Linked DNA regions of Homo sapiens: region 1 is linked to region 2. Evidence: fine-mapped expression QTL. A gene starts in region 2. The other region holds a variant in brackets. All regions are shown on one strand. Distances are from middle to middle.

Region 1 (11,380 bases), 25 kb before region 2:
GTTAAGAATTTCTCTACTTGCATTCTTGATATCTGCCCTTCCTGCCCCTCTGGGATTTTGTTTCTTTAGCTACAACTTCTTTGGCTCTTAAACTCAGGATCTTAAATCGGCTTCTAATTTAACAGGCAATGTGGTGGCATGCGGGTGTAATTTTTGAGAACGTGGTCACTGTCTGTCATGCAACTAATTGCTTTGTACATAAAGATTCCTTGTCTTCATTTGAATCATTTAAGATAAACTCCCAGAAATAAAAGTGCTGGGTCAAAAAGTAAGATACTTTTTGTGATTATTAATAGGTTTTACCAAACTGCCTTCCAAGAGGGTTTACAATGTTTCAAGCAATGATAAGCATATTAGACTACAGTACATGGCCTCTAGGACCTTTCTCTGTTTGAGCTTTCAACACTCCCTCTTTCTCAGTTGCAAGCCTATCCAAACACTTGCCAAGGCTTTTAGATTTTGTCCTTACCCATGTCTAACATCCACCCTTTTTTATTTCTCACATGGTCTGTTACACACACAGTTATCAACTGGGGGTGATATTGTCTCCATAGGGACATTTGGCAATGTCATATAGGGGGCTAGGGGTTGTCTAACATCTAGTAAACAGACACTAGAGACACTACTAAACATTCTACAATACTAAGGACAACCCTCCCACAACAAATAATTGTCTGATGCAAAATGTCAGTAGTGTAGTGTTGAGGCAGACAAATCCTGGTTTATTACAAATAGCCTCCCAACTAGTCTCTTTACCTTTATTTTTTATTTTTATTTTATTTTTTTGAGACAGGGTCTTGCTGTGTTACCCCAACCTCTGTGTTGCAATGGCCCAATCTTGGCTCACTGCAACCTCCACCTCCCAGGTTCAAGCGATTCTCCTGCCTCAGCCTCCCAGGTAGCTGGGATTACAGGCACCTGCTACCACCGAAGCTAATTTTTGTATTTTTAGTAGAGACAGGGTTTCACCATGTTGGTCAGGCTGGTCTCGAATTCCTGACCTCAGGTGATCCACCTATCTCGGCCTCCCAAAGTGCTGGGATTACAGGCATGAGCCGCGGTGCCCGACTGTCTCTTTACCATTAATTGCTCCTGTATTAGCCATTCTCACATTGCTATAAAGAACTACCTGAGACTGAGTAATTTATAAAGAAAAGAGGTTTAATTGGCTCACAGTTCCTCAGGCTGTAGAGGAAGCATGGTTGGGGAGGCCTAAAGAAACTTAAAATCATGGTGGAAGGTGAAGGGGAAGCAAGCTCATGCCTGTAATCCCAGCACTTCAGGAGGCCAAGGTGGGTGGATCATGAGGTCAGGAGATCAAGACCATCCTGGCTAGCACAGTGAAACCCCATCTCTACTAAAAATACAAAAAATTAGCCGGGCATAGTGGCACGCCCCTGTCATCCCAGCTACTCTGGAGGCTGAGGCAGGAGAATTGCATGAACCCGGGAAGTGGAGGTCGCAGTGAGTCAAGATCACGCTACTGCACTCCAGCCTGGGCGACACAGCGAGACTCCGTCTCAAACAAAAGCAACCAGATCTTGTGAGAACTCAACCACCATCATGAGAGCAGCAAGGGGGAAATCTGCCCCCATGATCTAATCACCTCCCACCAGGTCCCTCATCTAACATTGGAGATTACAATTCAACATGAGATTTGGGTGGGGACACAGAGCCAAACCTTATCAGCCCCCATGCCAATTTATACCACAGATAGCTACAAGATGAATTTTCTCAAGTTGAGGCCCCAAACCTGTCATCACCCTACTCAAAATCTACCTAGGTGCCCCATTGACAAATCCAAGTTCCTCAGCTAGGTACTGGAGTCACATAATGTTACAGCCTATCATCCCCAACCCCTGTAAACTCTACTTCTACAAGCTAGACTGTTTGCTGTTGCTTACCTATATCATCCTTTATATGTTTTCTCAGGCTGTTTCCTCTGCATATTGTCCCCCAATTATCTTTTGTCAAAACCCTAATTAAAGCCCATTTCACATTCCATCTCCTCTCCAAAGGCGCTACCATCTCCTTCATCTCAAGAGAATTTTGACTCTTTCACATGAATTTAACACATTGTGCTGGTAATTCATGTTCTTGTCACATTCCTTCCTAAAATTCAAGGAAAAGACTTCCTTATGCCTTTTTCTATCCCGTCTTGCATTTAGCACACTGCCCTGGGATTACAAGCATGAGCCACCATGCCCTGCTAAAAATATAGGCTTTGTTTGTTTGTTTGTTTTGAGATAGAGTCTTGCTCTGTCATCCAGGCTGGAGTGCAGTGGTGCTATCTTGGCCCACTACAACCTCTGCCTCCCAGATTCAAGCAATTTTCTCCTGCCTCAGCCTCCCGAGTAGCTGGGATTACAGGCACCCCCTACCATGCCCAACTAATTTTTGTATTTTTAGTAGAGATGGGGTTTCCCATGTTGGCCAGGCTGGTCTCAAACTCCTGACCTCAGGTGATCTGCCTGCCTCAGCCTCCCAAAGTGCTGGGATTACAGGCGCGAGCCACTGTGCCCAGCCAAAATATAGTATTTTTTAAACAATAAACTTTACTTTCCCTAATTCATCTCATTTTTCTTGATTTTTAAGCATTGCTTACCTTTCTCTTCTTTTTTTTTTTGTTTTGAATCAATAGAATTCCCTTTTAAAAAAATCAAAGGAAATTGACATTCTTTTTTTAATTATTATTATTATTATTTTTAGTACAGACGGGGTTTCACCATGTTAGCCAGGATGGTCTCCATCTCCTGACCTCATGATCTGCCCGCCTTGGCCTCCCAAAGTGCTGGGATTACAGGCGTGAGCCATCGCGCTGGGCCAGGAACTTGACATTCTGAATATAGATGCTAATCATTGTTATTCAGAGAAACTTCTACAGAAAAGAAGATGAATAGAGCCAACAGGATGTTTAAGTGTACATAGTATGATTTAAAGCCTATCAGGAAAGTACCCCAAATTATCTCTCCCATCAAAATTCATCCCATCATTAGATAGTTATTCTTGAATTAGTCATTGTCACTTTCACTTCATCTATATCTAAAGTGTAAATATACTGGGAAGGAAGGGTGATATATACTAAATTATAAGTTCCTTTCTTTTTTTTTTTCAAGACAGAGTCTCACTCTGTTGCCCAGGCTGGAGTGCAATGGCACGATCTCGGCTCACTGCAATCTCCGCCTCCTGGGTTCAAGCAATTCTCCTGTCTCCACCTCCCAAGTAGCTGGGATTACAGGCGCAGGCCACCACACCCGGCTAATTTTTGTATTTTCACTAGAGACGGGGTTTCGCCATGTTGGTCAAGCTGGTCTTGAACTCCTGGACTCAGGCAAGCCACCTGCCTCAGTCTCCCAAAGTGCTGGAATTACGGGCGTGAGCCACCACACCCAGCCTCATAAGTTCTTTTCTTTAAGAAGGAAGGATAGCATGAGTTGTTGAAAGGGAGATGGTGAGAAAGAGAAATAAAAGGAAAGTAAAAGAAAGCAAATGTCCGAGGCAGTGGTTCTGAACCTGGGGCTATTTTGCACCCCCAGGGGTCATTTAGCAATATCTAGAGATATTTTTGGTTGTCCAACAGTGGGGGTGCTACTAGCATTGAGGGATGCTGTAAAACATTCTACAATGTACAATGAAACCCCATAACCAAGGAGTATCTGGGCCCAAATGTCAATAGTACCAGGATTGAGAAACCCTGGTAAAAACTTTTAGATGACAATTCATCAATACAAAATTTTGATATCTTTGACCCAGTAGTAATTCTACATCTAGAAATCTATCCTTAAAAAATATTCACTGGCCAGGTGCAGTGGCTAACACCGATAATCCCAACACTTTGGTAGGCTGAGGCAGGTGGATTGCTTGAACTCAAGAGTTCCAGACCAGCCTGAGCAACATGGTGAGACGCTGTTGCTATGAAAAATCAGCATTTTTTTTTTTTTTGAGACAGAGTCTTGCTTTGTCACCTAGCCTGAAATGCAGTGGCGTGATCTTGGCTCACTGCAACCTCCACCTGCCAGGTTCAAGCGATTCTTGTGCCTCACCTGAGTAGCTTGGATTACAGGCATGTGCCACGATGCCCAACTAATTTTTGTATTTTTAGTTGAGATGGAGTTTTGCCATGTTGGCCAGGCTGGTCTTGAACTCCTTGCCCTAAGTGATCCAACTGCCTTGGCCTCCCAAAGTGCTGGGATTACAGGAATGAGCTGCCATGCCAAGCCGAAAAATTTTAAATACAAAAATTAGCCAGGCATGGTGATGTACACCTGTGGTCCCAGCTACTAGGGAGGCTAAGGTGGGAGGATGGCTTGAGCCTGGGATGCAGAGGTTGCAGTGAGCTGAGATGGCGCCACTGCACTCCAGCCTGGGCAATAGAGCCAAACCCTGTCTCGAAAAAAAAAAAAAAAATTCACCCATGTGTACAAAGATATTTACACATAGATGGTTGTTGCTTTTAATTTCAAAACTGGAAATTACTCAAATATCTACCAATCAATAGTTATTTAAAGGAATGACAAGGAAATGTCTATAACGTGTTAAAAAATCAAATTATAGAACAATATGTTGTCCCATTTTTTGCTTAAAAAATGCAGCCAATATACATTATATATAATTTTCTTTTCTTTTCTTTATTCTTTTTTCTTTTTTGAGACAGAGTTTCCCTCTGTCACCCAGGCTGGAGTGCAGTGGTGCAATCTCGGCTCACTGCATCCTCCACCTCCCAGGTTCAAGCGATTCTCCTGCTTCAGCCTCCCAAGTAGTTGGGATTACAGGCGCTTGCCACCATGCCCAGCCAATTTTTCTATTTTTAGTAGTGACAAGGTTTCACCATATTGGCTAAGCTGGTCTCAAACTGCTGACCTCAGGTGATCCACCTGCCTCAGCCTTCCAAAGTGCTGGGATTACAGGCATGAGCCTACATTATGTAAAATTTATTTAAAACCATATATGTGTGTGTGTGTGTGTGTGTGTGTGTGTCTGTGTGTGTGTGTGTGTGTGTCTGCCTGCATAGTTGAATATCTGGAAAGATATAAACCAAACTGAAGACAGAAAGAAGTTCCCTCTGGGCAATGGGATTATTTGTTATAGAAGAATTTTCATGTTTAACTTTAGGATGTTAATATAAAGTTTAGGCTGGGTGTGGTGGCTCATGCCTGTAATCCCAGCACTTTGGGAGGCTGAGGCGGGAGGATCACTTGGGGCCAGGAGTTCGAGACCAGCCTGGCCAACATAGTGAAACCCCGTCTCTACTAAAAAATACAAAAATTAGCCGGGTGTGGTGGCATGTGCCTATAATCCCAGCTACTCAGGTGGCTGAGGCACCAGAATTGCTTGAATGCGGGAGACAGAGGTTGCAGTGAGCCAGGATCGCGCCACTGCACTCCAGCCTGGGCAACAGGGCAAGACTCCCTCTCAATGACAAACAAACAAACAAACAAAAAACCACAGTTTGAATAGGCCATCTGGCCCCAAAAGCCTGAAATATCTACTATCTGGCCTTTTACAGAACAAATTGGCTGAGTCTTGCTATACGTCGTAACAGATGCTATCTAGGATGTTGAATTTCCAACTCTTTTGCTTGCTCATATAACCTATAAAATAATTTTGAAAAATGATGTCACCTCTTTACCTTCTTAAATTGACATCTAAAATGAGGCCAGGCATGATGGCTCACGCCTGCAATCCCAGCACTTTGGGAGGCAGAGGCAAGTGGATCACCTGAGGTCGGGAGTTTGAGACCAGCCTGGCCAACATGGTAAAACCCCGTCTCTACTGAAAATAAAGAAAAATTAGCCAGGTATGGTGGTGCATGCCTGTAATCCCAGCTACTCGGGAGGCTGAGACAGGATAATCGCTTGAACCTGAGAGGCGGAGGTTGCAGTGAGCCTGAGATTGAGCCACTGTACTACAGCCTGGGTGACAGAGATGAGACTCCGTCTCAAAAAAAAAAAATTGACATCTAAAATGTTTTCATTTTAAATAGAAGCAGAGTTTAATTTCAAACATGTAAGTATTCCAGCTTTACATATTGATATTTTAAGTTCAAAACTGAATTTAAATGCATCCATTTGAATCTAAATGCCATAACAGTTTGATAACTACCATCATCCATTTTAAAAATAAAATATGTAAGCTCTTCTTTAAAATTAAAATTACATCTTAAAAAAAAACGCTCACATTTCCTTTATGAAGTAACTTCCACACAGAATTTTATCCTAATATACAATTGTGCTTGAAAGTATTTATTTTTCATCATCACATCTGCAACAAAAATCTGTATTTAAATTGAGGGTTGGGGCATGATGGTACACGTAGTTTTAGCTACATGTGAGGCCAGAGACAGGAGGATCACTTGAGCCCAGGAGTTCAAGTTTATAGTGAGCTATGATCGTGCCTGTGAATAGGTACTAGCTCCTGCACTCTGGCAGCTGGGGCAACATAGTAAGACCAGGTCTCTAAAAAACAAACAAACAAATAAAAAACACCTGATGTAAAAAATGAAGGTTTTAAAATTTATTCTCCATGACTAGAAGACTGTCTATATTTCTTTCAGGTAATCATTACAATTATTATTAGTATACTTCATGTTCCAATTTTCCATACATAAATCAGAAATATTAACCCACACTCCCCTGGGAAACAATTTTATTAACTAGAGTACAGTGCTATGTGCAATTCCTGTTGTATTTAGTCTTATAGATTCCACACATTTC[C/T]GAAGTTTTTCCTACTCCCTTCACTGAAGTTGCTCTATACATTTGGTTCTCTTGCTACATGCAGTCCGTATTCCTTCCTAGATCCCCTTACTTCCTAAATGTTTTTGTTTTAATTTGCATACATTAACGTTTACTCTGGCTGGGTGGGGTGCCTCATGCCTGCAATCCCAGCACTTTGGGAGGCTGAGATGGGTGGATCACCTGAGGGCCAGGAGTTCCAGACCAGCCTGGCCAACATGGTGAAACCCCCATCTCTACTAAAAATACAAAAACTAACTGGGCATGGTGGTGTGTGCCTGTAATCTCAGCTACTTGGGTGGCTGAGGCATTTAAAAGAAGCTTGAATTTGGAAGGCGGAGGTTATGGTGAGCCGAGATTGCACCATTGCACTCCAGCCTGGGTGACAAGAGTGAAACTCTGTCTCAAAAAATAAGGTTCACTCTTCTTGCTGTAAAGTTCTACAGGTTTTAACAAATGAATAATGTCATGTAACCATCATATATTATACAGAATATTCAGAATAGTTTCACCACCTTAAAAAGTCTCCTGTGCTTCCCTTTTTTTGTTTGAGATGGAGTCTCGAAGTCTGGCTGTGTCGCCCAGACTGGAGTGCAGTGGCGCAGTCTCGGCCCATTGCAGCCTCCGCCTTCTGGGTTCAAGTAATTCTCCTGCCTCAGCCTCCTGAGTAGCTAGGATTACAATCGCCTGCCACCATGCCTGGTTAATTTTTGAATTTTTAGTAGAGACAGAGTTTCACCACATTGGCCAGGCTGGTCTTGAACTTCTGACCTCAGGTGATCTGCCCGCCTCAGGCTTCCAAAGTGCTGGGGTTACAGGTGTGAGCCACTGTGCCCGGCCTAATTTTTGTATTTTTAGTAGAGACTGGGTTTCACCATGTTGGCCAGGCTGGTCTCAAACTCTTGGCCTCAAGTCATCTGCCTGCGTGGGCCTCCTAAAGTGCTGGGATTACAGGCGTGAGCCAGTGTGCCCGGCCTGTGCTTCACTTATTCAACCCTCCTTTCCTCCCCACAAATACCTGTCAACCACTGATTTTTCTTTTTTCCTCTCCTTTTTTTGTTTTGTTTTTGTTTTTTATTTTGAGACAGGGTCTCCTCCTGTTGCCTAAGCTGGAGTTGCAGTGGTATGATCATGGCTCACTGCAGCCTCAACTGCCCCTGCTCAAGTGATCCTCCCACCTCAGCCTCCCGAGTAGCTGGACAACTACTGATGTTTTTATTTTTTTATTTTTTTTTGAGATGGAGTCTCGCTCTGTCACCCAGGCTGGAGTGCAGTGGCACGATCTTGGCTCACTGCAAGCTCCGCCTCCCAGGTTCACGCCATTCTCCTGCCTCAGCCTCCCGAGTAGCTGGGACTACAGGTGCCCGCCACCATGCCCGGCTAATTTTTTTTTTGTATTTTTAGTAGAGACGGGGTTTCACCTTGTTAGCCAGGATGGTCTCGATCTCCTGACCTCGTGATCCGCCCGCGTCGGCCTCCCAAAGTGCTTGGGATTACAGGCATGAGCCACCATGCCCGGCCTTTTTTTACTATCTCTATAGCTTTGTCTTTTACACAATGTCATATAATTGGAATTATACAGTATGTTGCCTTTTCCGGCTGCCTTCTTTCACCTAGCAATACATATCTTTTTTTTTCTTTGAGACACAGTCTCACTTTGTTGCCCAGGTTGAAGTGCAGTGGCACCATCTCACCTCACTGCAATATCTCACTCCCGGGTTCAAGTGATTCTCGTGCCTCAGCCTCCCAAGTAGCTGGGATTACAGGCGTGCACCGCCACCCCCCGCTAATTTTTGTATTTTTAGTAAAGATGGGGTTTCACCATGTTGGCCAAGCTGGTCTCAAACTCCTGACCTCAAGTGATCTGCCTGCCTCGGCCTCCCAAATTGCTGGGATTACAGGCGTCAGCCAACCTCCTGGCAGCAATACACATTTGAAGAGGTTCATGTCTCTACTAAAATAATTAACTCTACTAGTTCTGTCTCTACTAAAATAATTAAAATAATGCATGTCTTTTTCTGGCTTCACAGCTCATTTCTTTCTTTCTTTCTTTCTTTTTTTTTTGAGATGGAGTCTTGCTCTGCTGCCCAGGCTGGAGTGCAGTGGTGTGTTCTCGGCTCACTGCAACCTCTGACCCCCGGGTTCAATCGATTCTTCTGCCTCAGCCTCCTAAGTAGTGGAAATACAGGCACATGCCACCACGCCCAGGTAATTTTTGTATTTTTACAAGAGACAGGGTTTCACCATGTTAGTCAGGCTGGTCTCGAACTCCTGACCTTGTGATCCGCCTGCCTTGGCCTCCCAAAGTGCTGAGATTACAAGTATGAGCCACCGCGCCAGGCATCGTTTCTTTTTACCTCTGAATACTCTTCCATTGTGTAGGTGCACCAGTTTGTTCATTCACTTCTTGAAAGACATCTTGGTTGCTTCTAGTTTTGGGTGATTATAATAAAGCTTCTACAAACATTCATGTACAGGTCAGACTTACTTTGTATCATGACTTCATTTTTTATTTCACATACAATATTCAAAAAACATAATAAAATATTAAAAATAAATATAACAAATATAAGAATAAATCTTGAAAATTAAAATTAAAATAATATGGTCCATTATAATTGATTAATCTTTTTTTATTTTGAGACAAAGTCTCTCTCTGTCGCCCAGGCTAGAGTACAGTGGCGCAATCTTGGCTCACTGCAACCTCTGCCTCCTGGTTCAAGCGATTCTTCTGCCTCAGCCTCCCGAGTAGCTGAGATTACAGGCATCTGCGCCATGCCTGGCTAATTTTTGTATTTTTAGTAGAGATGGGGTTTCACCATGTTGGCCAGGCTGGTCTTGAACTCCCGACCTCAAGTGAGCTGCCTGCCTTGGCCTCCCAAAGTGCTGGGATCACAGGTGTGAGCCACCGTGCCCAGCCAATTATTCATTTTTTAAGAAATGAAAAACAAGATAAATAATACATTGGTTTTATTACTTAACTAGTAATAACGCCATATAATGTATAGCTGAAATTATAACTTATTAGTGAAGTAAAGAATATTATAAGAGATATTGTGTTCCTTCTACAAATGTGTGAGTGAACATATATCGAACTCTGGTGTTAGGCTTTTATTTTTATTTTTTAATGGGCAGCTTTTCAAGCCAGAGTAGGCTGAGAGAGACTACCCTGGTGTTAGGCTTTTGAGATTAATTAAAGAATAATCTCTGGGCATGGTGGCTCACGCCTGTAATCTCAGCACTTTGGGAGGCTGAGGCAGGCAGATCATGAGGTCAGGAGTTCAAGACCAGCCTGGCCAACATGGTGAAACCCTGTCTCTACTAAAAATACAAAAAAATTAGCTGGGCGTGGCCGGGAGCGGAGGCTCATGCCTGTAATCCCAGCACTTTGGGAGGCCGAGGCCGGCGGATCACCTGAGTTCGAGACCAGCCTGGCCAACATGGAGAAACGCTGTCTCTACTAAAAATACAAAATTAGTAGGGTGTGGTGGCGCATGCCTGTAATCCCAGCTACTTGGGAGGCTGAGGCAGGAGAATCCCTTGAACTCTGGGGGCAGAGGTTGCGGTGAGCCGAGATCGCACCATTGCACCCCAGCCTGGGCAACAAGAGCGAAACTCCGTCTCAAAAAAAAAAAAAAAAGAAAGAAAGAAAGAAAGAAAAAAAAACGCCGGGCGCAGTGGCTGACACCGTAATCCCAGCACTTTGGGAGGCCGAGGCGGGCTGGTCACAAGGTCAGGAGATTGAGACCCTCCTGGCTAACACGGTGAAACCTCGTCTCTACTAAAAATACAAAAAATTAGCTGGGCGTGGTGGTGGGCGCCTGTAGTCCCAGCTACTCGGGAGGCTGAGGCAGGAGAATGGCGTGAACCCGGGAGGCGGAGCTGGCAGTGAGCCGAGATGGCGCCACTGCACTCCAGCCTGGGAGAGAGTGTGAGACTCCGTCTCAAAAAAAACAAACAAACAAACAAAAAAATTAGCTGGGCGTGGTGGCGGGCGCCTGTAATCCCAGCTGCTTCAGAGGCTGAGGCAAGAGAATCACTTGAACCCGGGAGTCGGAGATTGCAGTAAGCCGAGATTGCGCCACTGAACTCCAGCCTGGGCGACAGAGTGGGACTCCGTCTCAAAAAGAAAAAAAAAAAGGAGACACCCTATAGCCAAAGAGGCCTTCACTTGGGCTCTGCCGCTCACATGAGACACGTTTGGCATATGCACTCATGTTTTCATGTTTCTCTGCAGCCTGTGAAGCCCCGCGCACCAAATCCCTGGTTACAAAGTTCAGTCCCAGGCCTAACCACACGAAGCAAAGTTCGTTCATCACTTGTCAAAGATCTACGCACCTCCCCCGAGAAAAGGATTGCTGTGGGACCATTTAGATCCGACTACCCAGCTCTTTATCTGGGTAAATTCTCAGAGAGAACATTTTTTTCTCCCATCATGTCTTCTCCCTCTGGAAAGAAAGGTGCTCATCTCTAAGCTGAACACTTGTCTTACTTCAAGATGCAGGAAGCAGTGGACCTGGTCACATTGGGTCTTTTTAATTGATACTGTACAATCTTGTTGTCACTATGTTTATAAAGAGAAATTATTTAACAGTAGACCTCATGTCTTAATGCGCACTATTTACATGGAAGGTTAAAGAAAATTGACA
Region 2 (16,430 bases):
CTCCCCCCAGCCAGCAAAGTACAGTCCTGTGCCCTTTGGTTTCTTCTTCCTCCTCCTCTCTCTCTATCCTCAACTTCCATTGGCAGAAGAAAGAGGAGCCACAGACCATGAGCTTGTAAGAGAGAGAGGAGTGGGAAGGAAGAGTCTTTTCTCTTGGGTTGCCTTTTTGTTCCCAGGGAGGGGGCCAAGACCATGAACCTTGGCCTCCGCGGGAGGAGGAGATTAGCAGGATGAGTCTTTACCTCCATCACCCATCCTCAGGGTGCTGCTGACTTGTTTCCGCTGGAGGCGGGATGACTCAGCGCAGACCCTTGATGGGGAAATCTGTCTCAGAGGCTGAAAGGAAAGCAACAGAGGGCCACCACTGGCCTTGTTCTTTAATTTAATTTTCATATCAGAAAGACTTCATTGAGTTTGGGGAAATGGAGCTTAATTCTCCCTGTTCCCCAGTGTTGGCAACTCCGAAAAGAATTTCCCAAAGGAATGACCCTGTCCACAGGAGTCCAAGAGAGATGGGCAGTGGGGTTCCAAATTCAGAGTGCGGGGATAGCCCCCCACCTGGAGGAGACCTTTATTTAGTCATACTCCACCACTGTGCTTTTGCCTACTAAATACTATAACCACCGGTGATCATTATGTGATAATTAGCACAGGCCTTTTTTATAACTCCCAGAGCACTACCCCAAAATAAGTGATTGTGTCAGGTGGCAAGGCTACTCCTAGAGACAATTCCTGACTCACTCATTCATTCACTAAATATTTAGTGAACTACTGTGGGCCAGGCCCTATGCTAGGCAGCCATGAGCAGGAAGGTTGTTGTCCCTGGTATTACAGTGCCGACATGTTGCTGGATGGCTAGGCACTGAGCAAGTTTACCCACGGGATATGTGTATCCAAAGTGGAAATGCAGTGTGTATAAGAGGGGCACCCAACTCAATGTGGCTGGGAGAGGGATAACAGGAAGCCTCCCCTATAATAGTAACTTTGAAGATGAGATCTGTAGGAGAGGCAGGAGCTAGCAAATGGAATCCAACTTAGGGTAAACCTATGCTATTTGTATGAGTTCCCCAAAACTTAAAGTTAAACCCAAAGTTGCCTCTTCATATAAACCCTCCAAAGTAACTAATAGGCTATGCCAGCTACAGTGCAGCCAACTCTACTTCCGTACAACGTGATGCTACTTTGGAAAAGTGTGAAATCCTACTTAAGTGGAAGGTGTAATTATTGCAGAGTATTTCAGGGAGGAAGATGGCACCAGGGAAATAGGCATGAAAATCAGGTTCTTCTATTATTTCCACAACCTGGTCTAATTCTCCATGCCCTTGGGATGGCCTGGGTCTGTGATAGGAAATATGTTTTTCTGTCTCTATTTGAGCAACAACATCCTTCTTATCAGCTGCTCCAATGAGGAAGACACTGATGTCCTTTTGCAGGAAACTAACAGGAAAAGAAAGAAAGCTTACCACTAAATACACATCCTGAGGGTGAAATGAAATGACTGCAGTGTAGGAAAGGGCTGAATAAATAAATACACCATTCCTATTGTATAGTCAGACTTCCTGGGGGCGAGTCCTCATCTCTTTACCCTGTCTTTCCCTTCTAAAATCCGCTAACCTGCCAAGGGACCGAACAAAGTTTTCTCTGGCTATTAACAGGTATGGAAACATACAAGTCTCCTCTGTCCCAGACACAGAGGAAACACAGAATAGAGAATAGGAAGGAGAGAAAACCAGAGCCACAGGAAGAGGAACTTGATATTGGTGTACATCTCCCCTTCATGTTTACAGAACTTTCCCAGCAACTTCTGCTTTGAGCCTTTCTGTGTACAAATCTGGTAATGTTTGGGAACATTTCGGGAGAGGAAAGGGCCAGGGCTAGTGCAGCTCAGAAAATCATCCGAACTCTTTAAATCACAGCTGCACAGGTGACTTGATTTAGAGGGAGAGGTGTAAACTGTCATTATCTGTGAATACTGAGCTCTAATCCTGTAGAGCTGCAGTGGAGACTGCTAGAGAAGATGATTCCTGATCTGAAAACAATTCCAGCCTGGAGGATCCTAAGGCATTTCCTTGTAAGGGTAGTTTTCTTCTGTGCGGAAAAGAAATGAAAGAACATGTGCAAATATGGGTGGGAGAAGAAGAAACAGAGACAGAGAGAGAGAGAGACAGATAAGTTGCAAAAACTTGGATCTTTGTATTTCTTTCTTTTCTTTTTCTTTTCTTTTCTTTTCTTTTTTCTTTTTTTTTTTTTTTTTTGAGACAGAGTTTCTTCTTTCTTGTTGCCCAGGCTGGAGTGCAATGGTGCTATCTCGGCTCACCGCAACCTCCGCCTCTCGGGTTTAAGTGATTCTCCTGCCTCAGCCTCCCAAGTAGCTGGGATTACAGGCATGAGCCACCGCACCCGGCCTGGATCTTTGTATTTCTACGGTGTTTTTAGTTTAAGGATCATTTACACTTTAGGAGGTTTTTGTTTTTTCTGTCTTTCTTATGTAATAATTATGGGTGAGCCCTGAGAAATGACTCAAAGCAAAAATAATGGGGTTTTCTTGATTATAGTTCCTCATTTTTCCTGGCCACAGGCCAACCCTCAATATCCTCCACCTTTATAAGGAAGACAGCTTCAACCCAGCCCTAAAGGGTGACTCCAGCCTCTTATGATCTTTCTTTCATGTTGCAAACTGGACTCTCTTCTTCCAACTTTCTAATTGCAAAATTGCTCTTTATTTTTATGGGTTCTTATTACTTCCAACCCAGGTGTGAAAATGTCTTCTTGGACACCCTTATCCCATCTGTAGGGCCTGTGTAGGTCCCTCTTTCTCTCATTCTTAGTTGAGGATTGACTGAGTAGACTGCACAATGATGACCATATTTTAAAAGGGACAAAGGTCACATAGCGAAGTCTCTGTTCATTCTCCCAGGCACAATCCCTTCTGTCTGGATTCTGGTTGGGGCCAGGCTCAGACTTTTGTGCATATAGGAGGTGCTGCCATAATTAGCCCATTTTGCTGGTTTTGTGCATACCCTTCTTGGTATAGGGCAGGCAGGAAATTAGACTGTGTTATGGATTTGGTGGTCATATTTTATGAACCCCAAATCTAGAATTGTGCTCTGGTGAGTATAGGGTGCTAATGGAAAAACTGAACAAAACATATGGAAATAAGGCCACCCTGGAAAAGTAATGAGAGTTCATAGTATTTCCTTCCAGTAGCTTGGAGAGAATATCAAATATCACATGTTTATTAATAATGTTGGTTTTTTTTTTGAGATGGAGTCTCGCTCTGTTGCCCAGACTGGAGTGCAGTGGCGTGATCTCTGCTCACTGCAAGCTCCGCCTCCTGAGTTCATGCCATTCTCCTGCTTCAGCCTTCTGAGTAGCTGGGACAACAGGTGTCCGCCACCATGCCCAATTAATTTTTTTGTATTTGTAGAGATGGGGTTTCACCGTGTTAGCTAGGATGGTCTCGATCTCCTGACCTTGTGATCCGCCCGCCTTGGCCTCCCAAAGTGCTGGGATTACAGGCGTGAGCTACCGTGCCCGGCTATTAATAATGTTAACAATAACTAATGATTATTGAGCATTTACTACATGTCAGGTCCTGAATTATGTATATTATTTCATTTACTCCTCATAAAAGGGTTCCTTCTAGGAGCTAGGGGAGAAAACCAGCCATTATATAGTCAATAATAATATTAATGGTAATAATAGTTATTATATATAACAGTTATATATTACATAACATATGCTGGCCCGAATTGAACATATTCTCTAATTTGATTTTTGAATATTTAAAAATATACACATATATTTGTTTTTTTTTTTTAAGAGATGGAGGAGTCTCACCATGTTGCCCAAGCTGGCCTCAAACCCCTGGCCTCAAGTGAGCCTCCCACCTCAGCCTCCCAAGTAGCTGCCACCATGCAGTCTCTAATTTAAATTTTAAACAAACCCTAGATGTTATTATTATCTTAGAGTAGGCTGCTTCTAAAATAGCTCCCAATGATCCTCTTGCTGGTCTTTACATCCTTGTGTAATCTCCTTGAGTGTGGGCTGGACCTAATGACTTACTTCTAACTCACAGGATGTGGCAACAGTGATGGGATGTCACATCTGTGATTGGATTACGAAAGACTGTGCCTTCTGTTTTGCTATTACTGTCTCTGGTGAGTCCTCTCTCTTGCTCTTGCTTGCTTGCACTGATGAAGTAAGCTGCCACGTTGTGAGATGCTCAACGAAGAGGCCCATGAGGCAGGGCACCGAGGGAGGCTTCTGGCCAACAGCTCCTGGGGAACCAAGGCCTTAGGAAGTGAGTCCTGCCAACAATAACGAGGTGAGTGAGGCAGGAAGCAGATCTGTCCCAACTGAGCTTGAGATGACTGTGGTCTTATAAGAGACCCAATGCCAGAGAGTTGACCCACAGAAACTGAGACGATAAACGTTCTTTTAAGCTACTGAGTTTTGGGGTAATTTGTTATGCAAGACAAGATAGCTAATATGTATCTCATTTTATAGATGAAGAAAATGAAGCTTTAGGGTGATGAATCAATGTTCCCCAAATTACACAGTTGGTAAATGGCAGAGCCAAAGCTTTTGGAACATACTAAGTTCGAGGTTCTAGGGTCTGAGTTTAAGTCTGCTTTCTCATGAGGTTCCAAGTGATTGGGACACTGCAGTTCTGGAAGAATTCTACTCTCTGAAATCCTTGGAGGATAGCCATGTTTCCAGGAAACTCTTTGTGTGCATAAAAACAGAGATGGACAAAAGTTTAAATGGTGCTAAGTGCTTTGAGTCGGTCCACTCCCTGCTGCAGAAGAATGGCTGATCCACCCATAGATCTGGTGATAGTAACCAGGAGCTCCAGTCAATAGCACAATGGCAGAACTCAGAGCTACAGCCCATCCATTTTTACAAGCGCTCAAGCCATATTATGTAAAGCAGGCGGAAGGGGGCATACACTTTTCTTGAGGATGAAAATGAATGCATTTAGTAATGAAAATGCATAGTGTGGTATTTAAAAATTACATGAGCTCTGGAATCAAATAACAAATGGTTCTGCCTGAGAGACCAGAACACCTTCTTTCACTGATTTTTTTTTCCTTCCCATCCCTGAAACAGAGCCTTGAACTTTGAAACCACAGTACCTTGTTCCAGCGTGGAAAGCAGCGTGGCACTTCCCGGTGGTGAAAGCACCCCAGCTTGAAAGGGTGAAAACACCTTCTCCCAGATAGTCTCCCTTTGTTTAGCCAGTGCTTTTGCCTTAAGGAAATCAAATGAAGGTATGCTCCTTGGTTGGCTGCTGAATCTGTCCTTCCTTGTCAGCTTTGCCCAGAGCAGCAGGCTTTGAGCTCTGGGAGGATTTCCAGGTGGCAGCAGAACAACGGTCCCATAGGCTGGAGCCTGGCACGCTTTCCCTTTTAACCAGTGGCAGAGGCTGCACTTTGCTGGTGTAATTATGCAACCTAGTGTAAAGTCCACATGGGTGGGGATAGGGGGTAGGCAAGGCAGGACTGTAAGCTGGCTCAGCACTCTGATTGGGTTTTTTGACTGTTTTTCTAGCTTTTCTTACCCTTTTCTCTCCTGCCCCCTCATCTCCTCCTCTTCCCTCCTTTTCCCTCCCCTTCTCTCTAATCCCTTCATCTTTGTCAGCCTCCACCCTCAGGGATCCCTAACTCAGGAAGCTACCTCTTATCAAATATTTTGGCTTGCCTCCAACTGCTAGTGGCAGGCAGTTCTGGCCCTTGTCTGCTATCTGAGCGATTTTCTTCTCCACCGGTTGTTTATTTCTCTAATCTAGTTGGAATTGGAATCGTGTGTAGAATCCAGAGGAAGAAAATCCAAAAGCAAAAAATGGATCCTTTCCCTAGTGAGATTGCCCCTGTGGGCTAAAATAGAAATGGAAAGAGACTTGGATTCTTTTCCCTTGAAAAGTGACATTATGAAAGAGCAGGAGAAACAGCATTAGTGTACAGGAAAGCCCAAGGCACACTATATCACTCCTCAGATATTGGACATCACTCTGAGTCCTCTATTTTCTGCTTAATTGGGATTATAAATGCTATTTTTGCCCCGAATGTACCTGCCATCTTGGTCGTGCCCAAGTGGCTCTGAACAGATACCATCTGCAGGACCTCCACAGCCAGCCATGCAACAGGAAGCTGCAGACTCCCAGACTCCAGTGTTCTTGTTTTCTGAGAGGGAGCCCTGAGAATGGTAGAGAAGCAAAAAACACAGGAAAGAAAAGAAAAAAGCTGGATGGAGTAATTACATGATAGGGTTACCTTGTGCACGTGAAAGCAAAATGTAGGGATACAAGCAATAACCCCTCCGGTACTGCACAGTCTTTGATAACACAATAGCCTTCTGTTATTTCAAGGCATGTTCCTTGAAACCTTCCTTAAGGTTTTCCCACTACTTACTGGGTTGTAACATATTTATTTTATATGTCCTTTCTTAACTGATATTCACAAAGAATAGGAATGATAGATGTGTGTATATGAGCAAAAGCATTTATACATGCTTTCTTTTTTTTTTTTTTTTTAGTGTATGAAATAGCGGCTGACTTTTGTGACAATTTTCCACCCAGTTTTGTGATAGTAATTTCGCTGCATTCTTCAACTTAGATGGCAAGTCCTCTTAGCAAGGCTGGCCTAATTCTATGTTTTCTATGGCACCTAGTCACTATGGCTGTGCAAGAGCCATTATTACCCAAAGTACCATAATAATGGTCATGTCCTCCTATGACGTTATTGTTTCCTATCTGTCAGGACATTAATTGTCTTCTAACTTGCTCTAAAATTGGTAGCATGGCACACTGCCAAGACTAGAGAGAAGCAAGCTGCTGGTGATATATTAAAAGGCTGTGTAAAAGGACATATTGGTATTTGCTTTTTCTTGGGGCATCTTCACATTTGCATTACTTCACATGTTATGGGATGTTAGCTCAGGCTTGCCTTATGTCTTGGCGTCTATCTTATCATGGTCAATGTCTGATCTTTCCTTCAGCTGAATGATTCAGACATCTCTAAGTTATTTTGGCTTTTCCACTTTCCTTTCACAGGCTTTTTGTGAGTCATTGAATTGAATGGGAGGTTATTTCTAAATTGGAAGGTGAGGAAGAGAGGAGGGGGAGGAAAGTTCCGGAAAATAACTAGGAAAAGGCACTTTATTGTTATGTATAGTTACTGGAGGAATAATTTCTGCTTAGTCTGGTGATAGAAGTATGTACTTTATTTAAACTTGACTAAAAATATAGGCTAGAAAAAAGACAATATTTTTCTGAATAATAAACCATACAGTTTTAGACTCTTTGTAGCTTGCTCTGCAAAGAACAAGGAGGTTAGTAAATAGAAGAAATATGAGACAAAGGGTTAGCAGAAAGAAGAAAGAGACAAAGCACATTTCCAAAGTCCACATCCTTGAGGTGAATGCCTCCTTGACAGTGTCTTTTTTTTTTTTTTTTTTTAAGACAGAGTCTCACTCTGTTGCCCAGGCTGGAGTGCAGTGGCACCATCTGCAGAGACAGGGGTTTCACCATGTTAGTCAGGCTGGTCTCAAACTCCTGACCTCAGGTGATCTGCCCGGCTCGGCCTCCCAGAGTGCTGGGATAACAGGCATGAGCCACCGCACGGCCTGACAGTGTCTTAAACTATCCCTGGGTGTTGTTTCATGGCCCATGGGTATATGTATCATAGGTGGGGTTGTGAGAAAGTACATTTAAATCTGATTTAGAAACTGAAAGAGTAATCAGACCAGCATTTTGTTATTTAGGAGCAGGAAAAGTGGGTGAAAAAAAAGGAAAAACAAAAAGCTAATGATGAATATATTTCTAGGAGCACAAGAGTTTTTATAGCAACATTAGATTTCTCAAAAATGCCTACTGTGATTTGTACCCAAGTGAATAAAAAATGCAATCATTTATTCTTGTGCATTGTGCCAAGTGAGGAAAAAAAAAAAACACACACACACACAACCCGGCAATTCATTCAATGGCCCTAATTTAGACTGCTAGGAAGAGGTTTAGAAAAAAAAAAGAGAGAGAGAGAGAGAAGCTTTTAAAGTATCTGACACACAGCTAGTAGGGCTATTTAAGAACTGCTGAACAGAAAAACAAAGTGGCAGTGAGAGGTGGGGGAAAGCAGAATTCTCATTTCCAGAGCATCATAAAGGGTATAATGTGGCCCGCTTATTAGAAAGTTGCTGGCCGGGCGCGGTGGCTTACGCCTGTAATACCAGCACTTTGGGAGGCCGAGGCGGGCGGATCACCTGAGGTTGGGAGTTCGAGACTAGCCTGACCAACATGGAGAAACCCCGTCTCATGCCTATAATCCCAGCTACTCGGGAGGCTAAGGCAGAAGAATCGCTTGAACCTGGGAGGCGTAGGTTGCGATGAGCCGAGATAGCACCATTGCACTCCAGCCTGGGCAACAAGAGAGAAACTCCGTCTCACAGAAAAAAAAAAAAAAAAAAAAAGTTGCTAATGGCTGTCTGGTCAATTGGCAGGGGTCAGCCAGGAGTGGATCTGGAAGCTGGAGAACTCTCAATACGCCACTTCAGTTTATTGACGACATTTATAATTGCAACCGAAGTTGACTGATTTCTGCTAAATGAAAGTTTGCGCTTTGCCCTTTAGCATTGAGGCTCCTGGAAAGAACTTCAATGAAATTGGATGCATTGAGACCAAAGAAAAGAAGGGGACATTTTTATCTCTCTGATACCTTTCTCCCCAGGGCTTGGAAACACTTCTTAAACACAACCTCTAATGTTGGTGTTTTGTAAGTACTACCCCTATGAATAAAGCTAGCAGAGATAAGCTTCTCCTTGCAGGAAGTGAGCTGGAGAAGTGGAAAAGTTTACAGAGAAAACTCTACAACAAAGACTTAACCCTTCCCGGGTAACCACGAATGTGAGCGTCTGCCCCTCCTTTGCTTTCTACTGCGCAACCAAACTGTGCACAAGCGTGAATCAACCTTAACCGTCACGTCTCTTGCCAGTTAGCTTAACAGACACTTTTAGCAGCCTATCATAACTTCGAATTGCCCAACCCTCAACCAATTACAACTAAAGCTTGGGCTAGGACGCTCCAGGTCCGGGCGGGGGCGAATACCGGGTTTAGGAAAAGGGGCGGTAAAGAGCGATGACGGGCGGGTATACTAAACCAATCAGAGAGGAGAGCTGCCGCCCCACTATCCAATGGATAGGTTAGAAGTATGAAAGAGGGTGGGCCTGTTGTCATGGGGGAGGTGGTGGCGCTTGGTGGCCACTGGCGGCCGAGGTAGAGGCAGTGGCGCTTGAGTTGGTCGGGGGCAGCGGCAGGTGAGTGCCGGTAACGCGGGTCAGAGATCTGGGGGCCGTCGCGGGGCGGAATCTCCAGCTCAGCACTCCGGAGGCGGAGGCCGGAGGAAGGGGGCCTGGACTTCGGGTCGGGGCCCGGGCCGGGGCCGGGGCCAGGGCGGAGGCGGCGGGGGCGGCGGCGAGTTCGCGCTGACTGGGCTAGGGGGAGAGGGGCTGGGCTTCTGGCTGCGGAGTTCTCCCGAGGAAGGTAGGCTACGGCCGGACCCGCGCGGGTCAGGCCAGGAGGTCCCTTGGGACGTCCAGCTGCTCCGGTCTAGCGCGCTGACCGGCGGCCACTGTGTGAGGAGTAGGTATCTGAGGAAACGGAAGCGGCCAGGGTCCCAGAGAGGGGGTGACCTGTAACGACCTGCTTCAAGGGCGGGGTGTCTTGGGAATACCCAGGACGGCTTGGGTGCCAGGGAGAAAAGGAATCCGGGAAGCCCGGCAGCGGCCGGTGAGGAGAGAGCGGGGTGGGGGGCAGGGGAACTGGGAGTGGCCCCGGTCCGAGGGAGGTAGGAAGGCCGAGGGTGGCCAGGGTCCCGGGTGACAGGGAGCAGACTTGCTCCAAGTAGGGGCGTCTGAGGAAACGCTCGGAGGGGGTTGGGGACCCTCCTGAGAAAAGCGGCTGTCCAAGGGAGGGGGCTCCTGGAGAGATGAGGAGCAGCAGGTCTTCGGAGGGTCGGACGAGTAGAGATCTTGCACCGCCTGGGGGAAGAACCGGAGCTCCCTGCGCCCCCATAGCTGAGCTGGGATGGGAGACCCAACTGGCCTGGCCGCTCCGGCTCTGAGGATCCCTAAGGGACCAGGAAAGAAGTCCTCGAGGAGTGGCTCGCGTTTGAGACCGGGGTGAGGAGCCAGCAGGGGAGTGGAAGTTCCCTCGGTCGGAGAGGAGTCATGCAAAATGGGACGGAGATGGGCGGAGGTGGGAGAGAATCCCTATAGGAGGGGATAAGGTAGAGAAAGAAAGTTGCCCGAGGAGAGAGTAATGGTTTCGTGGAACTGGCTAGGACAGTAGATATATGAGAAATTAACAGTGGAGCCATGTAGGTTCACAGGTCTTCACAAATAGAAGAAACTTCAGTTTCGTAATTAATATCAAGATGACATCTAGGACCAAAGCAAAGCTCCTAAAAGCAAGGTTAAGTGACTTGTTTTAGAAAAGAAATTTGTTTTAGGATGATGGCAGTAATATTAGGAAATAGGTTCATTGACAGGGTGGGGAATTTGGGAGGGAAAAGGGGAGGAGTAGCTGAACTAAAGGAGTAGAAGTAAATACTTATCAGAAAGAGGGTAGGCATACTCGGCTAAAGTGAAAAGAAGTTTTGAGTTCTAGTTCCACCACTTAGCTAAGTTTCTGTGCAGTTTCCTCATCAGAATACTAATAGTAATAGTTCCTACTTTATAAGGTGGTGGTGGTGTTTTTTTTTTCATGTGAGTTGGTATTTGTAGAGCTTTTAGGATAGTGACTGGCACATAGTCGTGTGTACTGGATTGTTCAATAGACGATAAAGACCTGACTTCTTAAATAGAAGGTAAAGACCTGGCTCGCAGATGTTAGCTTGCATCAAAATCACCTGGAGGGCTTGGTAAAATGTAGATTGCTTGGCCCCACCTGGGGGTTTCAGTAGGTCTGGGGTGGGGCCCAATAATTTATATTTATCTCAAATGATGATCACGTTGGTCAGAGGACCACACTTTAAGAACCACTTACTTTAATGAAACCGGTAATAATGGTAGCAACTTTAAAATACCTGCTAAAGAGACAGGTAGAGGCAAATTGCCTAAAAGATCCTATTATAAAGGATACTCATTTTTAGCCTGTGTTTTTCAAACTGTGGATTGTGATTTATTAGTAATTTATAAAATCAATGTTGTGAGTTTTTACCTGCATTGAAAATAAAATGTAGAACAGAATAAACTGACATTGCATTTGGTAAGGAAAAGTATTGTTTTGGGAAACTTTTCTCCTACATGTATGTACTAGGTCACAATGTAAAGTGTATTTCTTTTTTTGAGTTCCTGGCCAAAGGATAAAATATATTTCTTACAGTTAAAAAAGTCTGAAAGCTGGGTGCGGTGGCTCACGCCTATAATCCCAGCACTTTGGGAGGCCAAGGCGGGCGGATCACTTGAGGTCAGGAGTTCAAGATCAGCCTGACCAACATGGTGAGACCCCCATCTTTAAAAAAAATACAAAATTAGCTGGGCGTGGTGGCGCGTGCCTGTAATCCCAGCTACTTGGAAGGCTGAGGCTGGAGAATTGCTTGAACCCCGGAGGTGGAGGTTGCAGTGAGCCGAGATCATGCCATTGCATTCCAGTCTGGGCAACAAGAGTGAAACTCCATCTTAAAAAAAAAAAAAAAGGTTTTTTTGGGAGTATTATATTCCATTAAATTTCTTCAGTTTCTGATTTGGTTCCTCCTGTGTTTGTCTTGTCACATATTGTGTTATGCCTCTGACTCTGGAACTTTTTTGGATATTGAGAATCTTTGGCATGAGAACTTAAGGGAATCTGAGGCAGAGAAATTGAATGGTGTTTCTCAGATGTTGTCCGCTTTTGTTTCACTTGTGCCCTCTTGTTCACCCTTTCTTTTTTATCACTGTACCGTAAAGCATTGTTTGTAAAAGCCTGAGTATACACAGACATATTGACAGTAAACAACACTGAAATGGACTGACTTGAGAAAATTTCATGTATAGAAAATAAGCAAAAACAAAGTAAGAAACACTGCAAAAGAGAAAAATGAAAAGATATTTCCTTTTTAGAGAGTAAAAATATTAAGTATTTCTTATCCTTACACTAATATAAAACATATACAGATATTTTTAAAGGAACTAGATATACAGTTTCTAGGTCTTTGTAGAGAAAAGAAATAGTGGTAATATGTGACAGCAAAATGCACCTGGGATAGAGGCTTAACTACAAAGTAAATCATTTATTAAGAGGGAGCTTTTGTTTAATGGTTTTCTCCCTTGAGAATAAACTGGATGTGGTACATGTTGTAAACTTAACTTGTTTGAGGAACCTAAATGTAATTTACAGCGTGTTTTTAAAAAGAATATGTATGTTTTATCTGTACGTGGTTTGATTTTTCTTCCATTGAAAGCTAGATGGTTTATATTTAGGAGTTGATTTAGATCTGTTTTTATGGCTGTTAAGAACAGGAAGCAGTATTGAAAACTGAAAGAGATCCTTGCAGCTTTCTTTAAAATCTTTAATCCAGGGGATTATGTAACCTCTTCATTAATGTTTTATGAAATTGTGAAGAAACTGTTGGTATAGCTTTGCATCAGGATTTTTGGTTTATTTTTTTCTCTCTCAAAAATAATTTTTAGTTTTATTTCAGATTATATTTCCTTAAAATTTTTATTTTCATTTGGAAGACTGCAAGGCATATAACCATTGCATATCTGAGTTCTAAAGCAGATGCAGACTTTTCACAAAATAAATTTACTGCTTTTTTTCTGTGACATAAGTTTCGAGAAGGAAAGCTTTTGATTTCTTGCATTGAGTTCAGTGGATTATTCTTAGCACTAGAGTTGTTGTTGAAGTCATGGTACATTTATATAGATCATTCAGTTCTACACCAAATGATGGAAGAATGAGAAATCCTATATGACAAATAGAAAAGTTCATTCTTCATAATTGAGAACATTGAGCAGTTTGATTACCTGGTTTTAATAAGTGGACTTATTATTCATCTGATTATACTTATCTAGGAATAGCTTTGATTGCCCAAATAATTTTACAGTGGGATTTGGTTGTCTGTAGTTGAATAAATGGTGGTTTTTAAATCCCAAAATCCTAACTGTGCTATTTAGTGAGACTCAGTTTCACATACTGAAGTTTTATTTAGGTAAGTGATTTTAAAAAGTAGAAGTTCAATTAACACTAGTTAATTAGGTTTATTTTCTATTTCAGAGAAGCCTTGTCTTGTTTTATAAGTCTCTGATCTACTTTTCTGCTTCCTGCTCTCCAACTCGCTGTACAATAAATTCTAATAGAAATGTGGGTAACTGAAAATCTAGTTCTCTAAAAGTATAAAACCCCTATATCTAGTTTTTTAGTTTGCTTCGAAACTTCCTAAACTAATTACCTTTAAAAAAGTATTTTATATAATAGAGTACTTGAAAAGCTACATTTTACTTTGGACTTGCCAAAACACATCTGTTGTGTGTAACAGGTTTTGATTTCTAGAGAATAGATCTTGAATTCTGCAGATTTCTGAACTCTGATTTTTTTCCTTTTTTTTTAAAAAAAAATTCAACTTTTAGTTTAGATTCTGAGAGTACATATGCAGGTTGGTTATATGGGTATATTGTGTGATGCTGAGGTTTGAGGTATGATTGGTCCTGTCACCCAGGTAGTGAGCATAGTACCCAATAGTTCTTCAACCGTTCCCCCCCCGCCCAACTTTTTCCCTCCCTCATTTTATGTTTTCCTGATAGGGCTGGGGAGAAATAAAACAATATACTCCTTAAATTAAAAAAAAATTTTTTTGCTATCTTATTTTTTTAATCTTGACATTATAGTGCATCCTTTAGTGGCAAAGAAAATTTGTTTAAGGGGCCGGGTGCGGCGGCTCATGCCTTTAATCCCAGCACTTTGGGAGGCCGAGGCAGACGGATCACGAGGTCAGGAGATCGAGACCATCCTGGCTAACACAGTGAAACCCCATCTCTACTAAAAACACAAAAAATTAGCTGGGCATGGTGGCACGCGACTGTAGTCCCAGCTACTCGGGAGGCTGAGGCAGGAGAATGGCTTGAACCTAGGAGGCGGAGGTTGCAGTGAGCTGAGATCGCGCCACTGCACTCCATCCTGGGCGACAAAGCGAGACTTTGTTTTGAAAAAAAAAAAAAAGGAAAATTTGTTTTAGTAATGTAACATATTATAAATTTTATTATAAGAGGTAGAAATACAATACAGGGCTTTAGGATGTATGTTCAGCTGCAACACACAGGTAGTGATAAATAAGATATCATTAAATACTAGGTACAATATTGCCATATATTTTGGAGATTATTAAACGTGCACTTTGAGGCTAGGCGTGGTGGCTCATGCCTGTAATCCCAGCACTTTGGGAGGCTGAGGCGGGTGGATCACCTGAGGTCAGGAGTTTGAGACCAGCCTGACCAACATGGAGAAATCCCGTCTCTACTAAAAATACAAAATTAGCCGGGCGTGGTGGCACATACCTGTAATCCCAGCTACTCAGGAGGCTGAGGCAGGAGAATCACTTGAACCCAGGAGGCGGAGGTTACAGTGAGCCAATAGCACGCCATTGTACTCCAGCCTGGGCAACAAGAGAGAAACTCCGTCTCAAACAAAACAAAACAAAACAAAAAGAAACCATAAAAAAAAGTGCACTTCGAAATCTTGAGGCAAAAGGAGGATTGAAATGAAGGGAGAATAAGGAGAATACTGACGTGCTTAAGGGAGGAGTCTGGAGGATCTACAGGAAGTGTATCTAGAGGAATGAGTGGTTCTTGGCAGTTTTCCTGGAGTGACATATGTAAAGGAGGATGATTCTATTTGCAACATTCTCCTATGGACTTATTTTTCATTCTCTGCAGTTTCTGCTGCTTGTTATTACTCTTCCTTTGTTTTCTTCCCCTCAAGAAAGCATGTCAGAAGACAAGTAAGTAGACTGAGAAGTGGTAGTCCTAGAGGATGAGAGCCTTGGAAGGACCATGTGGATTTAGAAGAAGGCTCTTCTTATCTCTGCTTCTGCAGCTCTTGGGAGGTCCCCAGCAACCTTAACTAGACCAACCTTTCCCACTTGTCCTCTCCAGTGGAGTATGGGATTAGGAAGAGACCCCCAGTCATCTTAAATGCATTAACCAAGGAGTTGCTATATTAGTAATTAACGTTCAGTGACTTCCCCCTCTCTACCCACGAAAACCCTGTTTCTCCCCACTTGTTTGCTGATAAGTTACGTTCCTTTTTTTTGAGACGGTGTCTTGCTCTTTTGACGTGGAGGGAGTATGCAGTGGCATGATCTCGGCTCACTGCAGCCTCAACATTCTGGGCTCAGGTGATCCTTCTGCCTCAGCCTCTCCAGTTGCTGGGACTACAGGCTGCCCAGTTTTGTTTTGTTTTGTTTTGTTTTTGAGACAGAGTTTCGTTCTCGTTGCCCAGGCTGGAGTACAATGGCACAATTTTAGCTCACCGCAACCTCCACTTCCTGGGTTCAGGTGATTCTCCTGCCTCATCCTCCCTAGTAGCTGGGATTACAGGTGTGCACTACCACACCCCGCTAATTTTTGCATTTTTAGTAGAGATGAGGTTTCACCATTTTGGTCAGGCTGGTCTTGAACTCCTGGTCTCAGGTGATCCATCCACCCTGGCCTCCCAAAGTTCTGGGATTCCAGGCGTGAGCCACCACGCCTGGCCAGTTTTTTTTTTGGGGGGTAGAGACAGGGTCTTGTTAAACTCCTAAACTCAGGCAGTCCTCCCAAAGTGTTGGGATTACAGGCATGAGCTACCGTGCTCAGGCTATCTTACGTTCTTTTAACCAAGATCAAAGTCTTCAATTACCTGAGTAGGACAGCAAAATCTTAATTATGGTAACTTGATTATATTAAGGTGAATTATAGTTAATTTGGAACATTTCTAGTTTAATTAGGGAAGAAGAGGGAAAAACTGTAGAATACTGCTTAGCTCTGAATAAAGGCAAAGCTGGGGCAACCAGGGACACAGAAATCAGCTAAATTTGTAACTTTATTTAAGATTGGCCTTGGTTACCTTTGACTTTGGAAAAGTAATAGTGATACTTTCGTCTAGTCACTTGTGCATATGTACATCTCAGGTACATTTTGATTTTATCATGTAGATAATTTGTGAAGGTTTATTTACTTAATTTATTTTATTTAAAGATGCCCAGGCTGGAGTGCAGTGGCACAATCTCGGCTCACTGAAATCTCCACCTCCCAGGTTCAAGCAATTGTCCTGCGTCAGGCTACCGAGTAGCTGGGACTACAGGGGCATGCCACTATGCCTGGCTAATTTTTGTTGTAGGTTTTTTTTTTTTTTTTTTAGACGGTGTCTCCTCTGTTGCCCAGGCTGGAGTGCAGTGGCTCAATCTTGGCTCACTGCAACC

Evidence for each region. PIP is the estimated chance that this variant, and not a neighbour inherited with it, causes the effect. A credible set is the group of variants that fine-mapping cannot tell apart.
Region 1: its variant is the best candidate, but not a certain one, in a credible set for the expression of NUMB in whole blood (INTERVAL, PIP 0.74).

The regions. Positions count from the first base shown.
Region 1 is chr14:73,478,431-73,489,810 of GRCh38, reverse strand. HEATR4 (HEAT repeat containing 4) reads left to right here. Exons shown (of 18, transcript NM_001220484.1): 18 at 10,969-11,327. The coding sequence ends at 11,205. Among named protein-coding and RNA genes, the nearest start is that of RIOX1, 6.8 kb to the left of the region's middle. The variant C/T (reference allele first, on the strand shown) is at 6,714.
Region 2 is chr14:73,451,372-73,467,801 of GRCh38, reverse strand. It overlaps NUMB (NUMB endocytic adaptor protein), which reads left to right and starts at 9,256. Exons shown (of 13, transcript NM_001005743.2): 1 at 9,256-9,309. It overlaps LOC101928143 (a long non-coding RNA gene), which reads left to right and starts at 4,160. Exons shown (of 3, transcript NR_135251.1): 1 at 4,160-4,327; 2 at 5,113-5,273; 3 at 6,538-6,867. RefSeq lists enhancers at 2,632-2,861, 4,122-4,211, 7,860-8,393, 8,394-8,927, 15,541-15,600 and silencers at 8,913-9,112, 9,303-9,392, 9,403-9,532.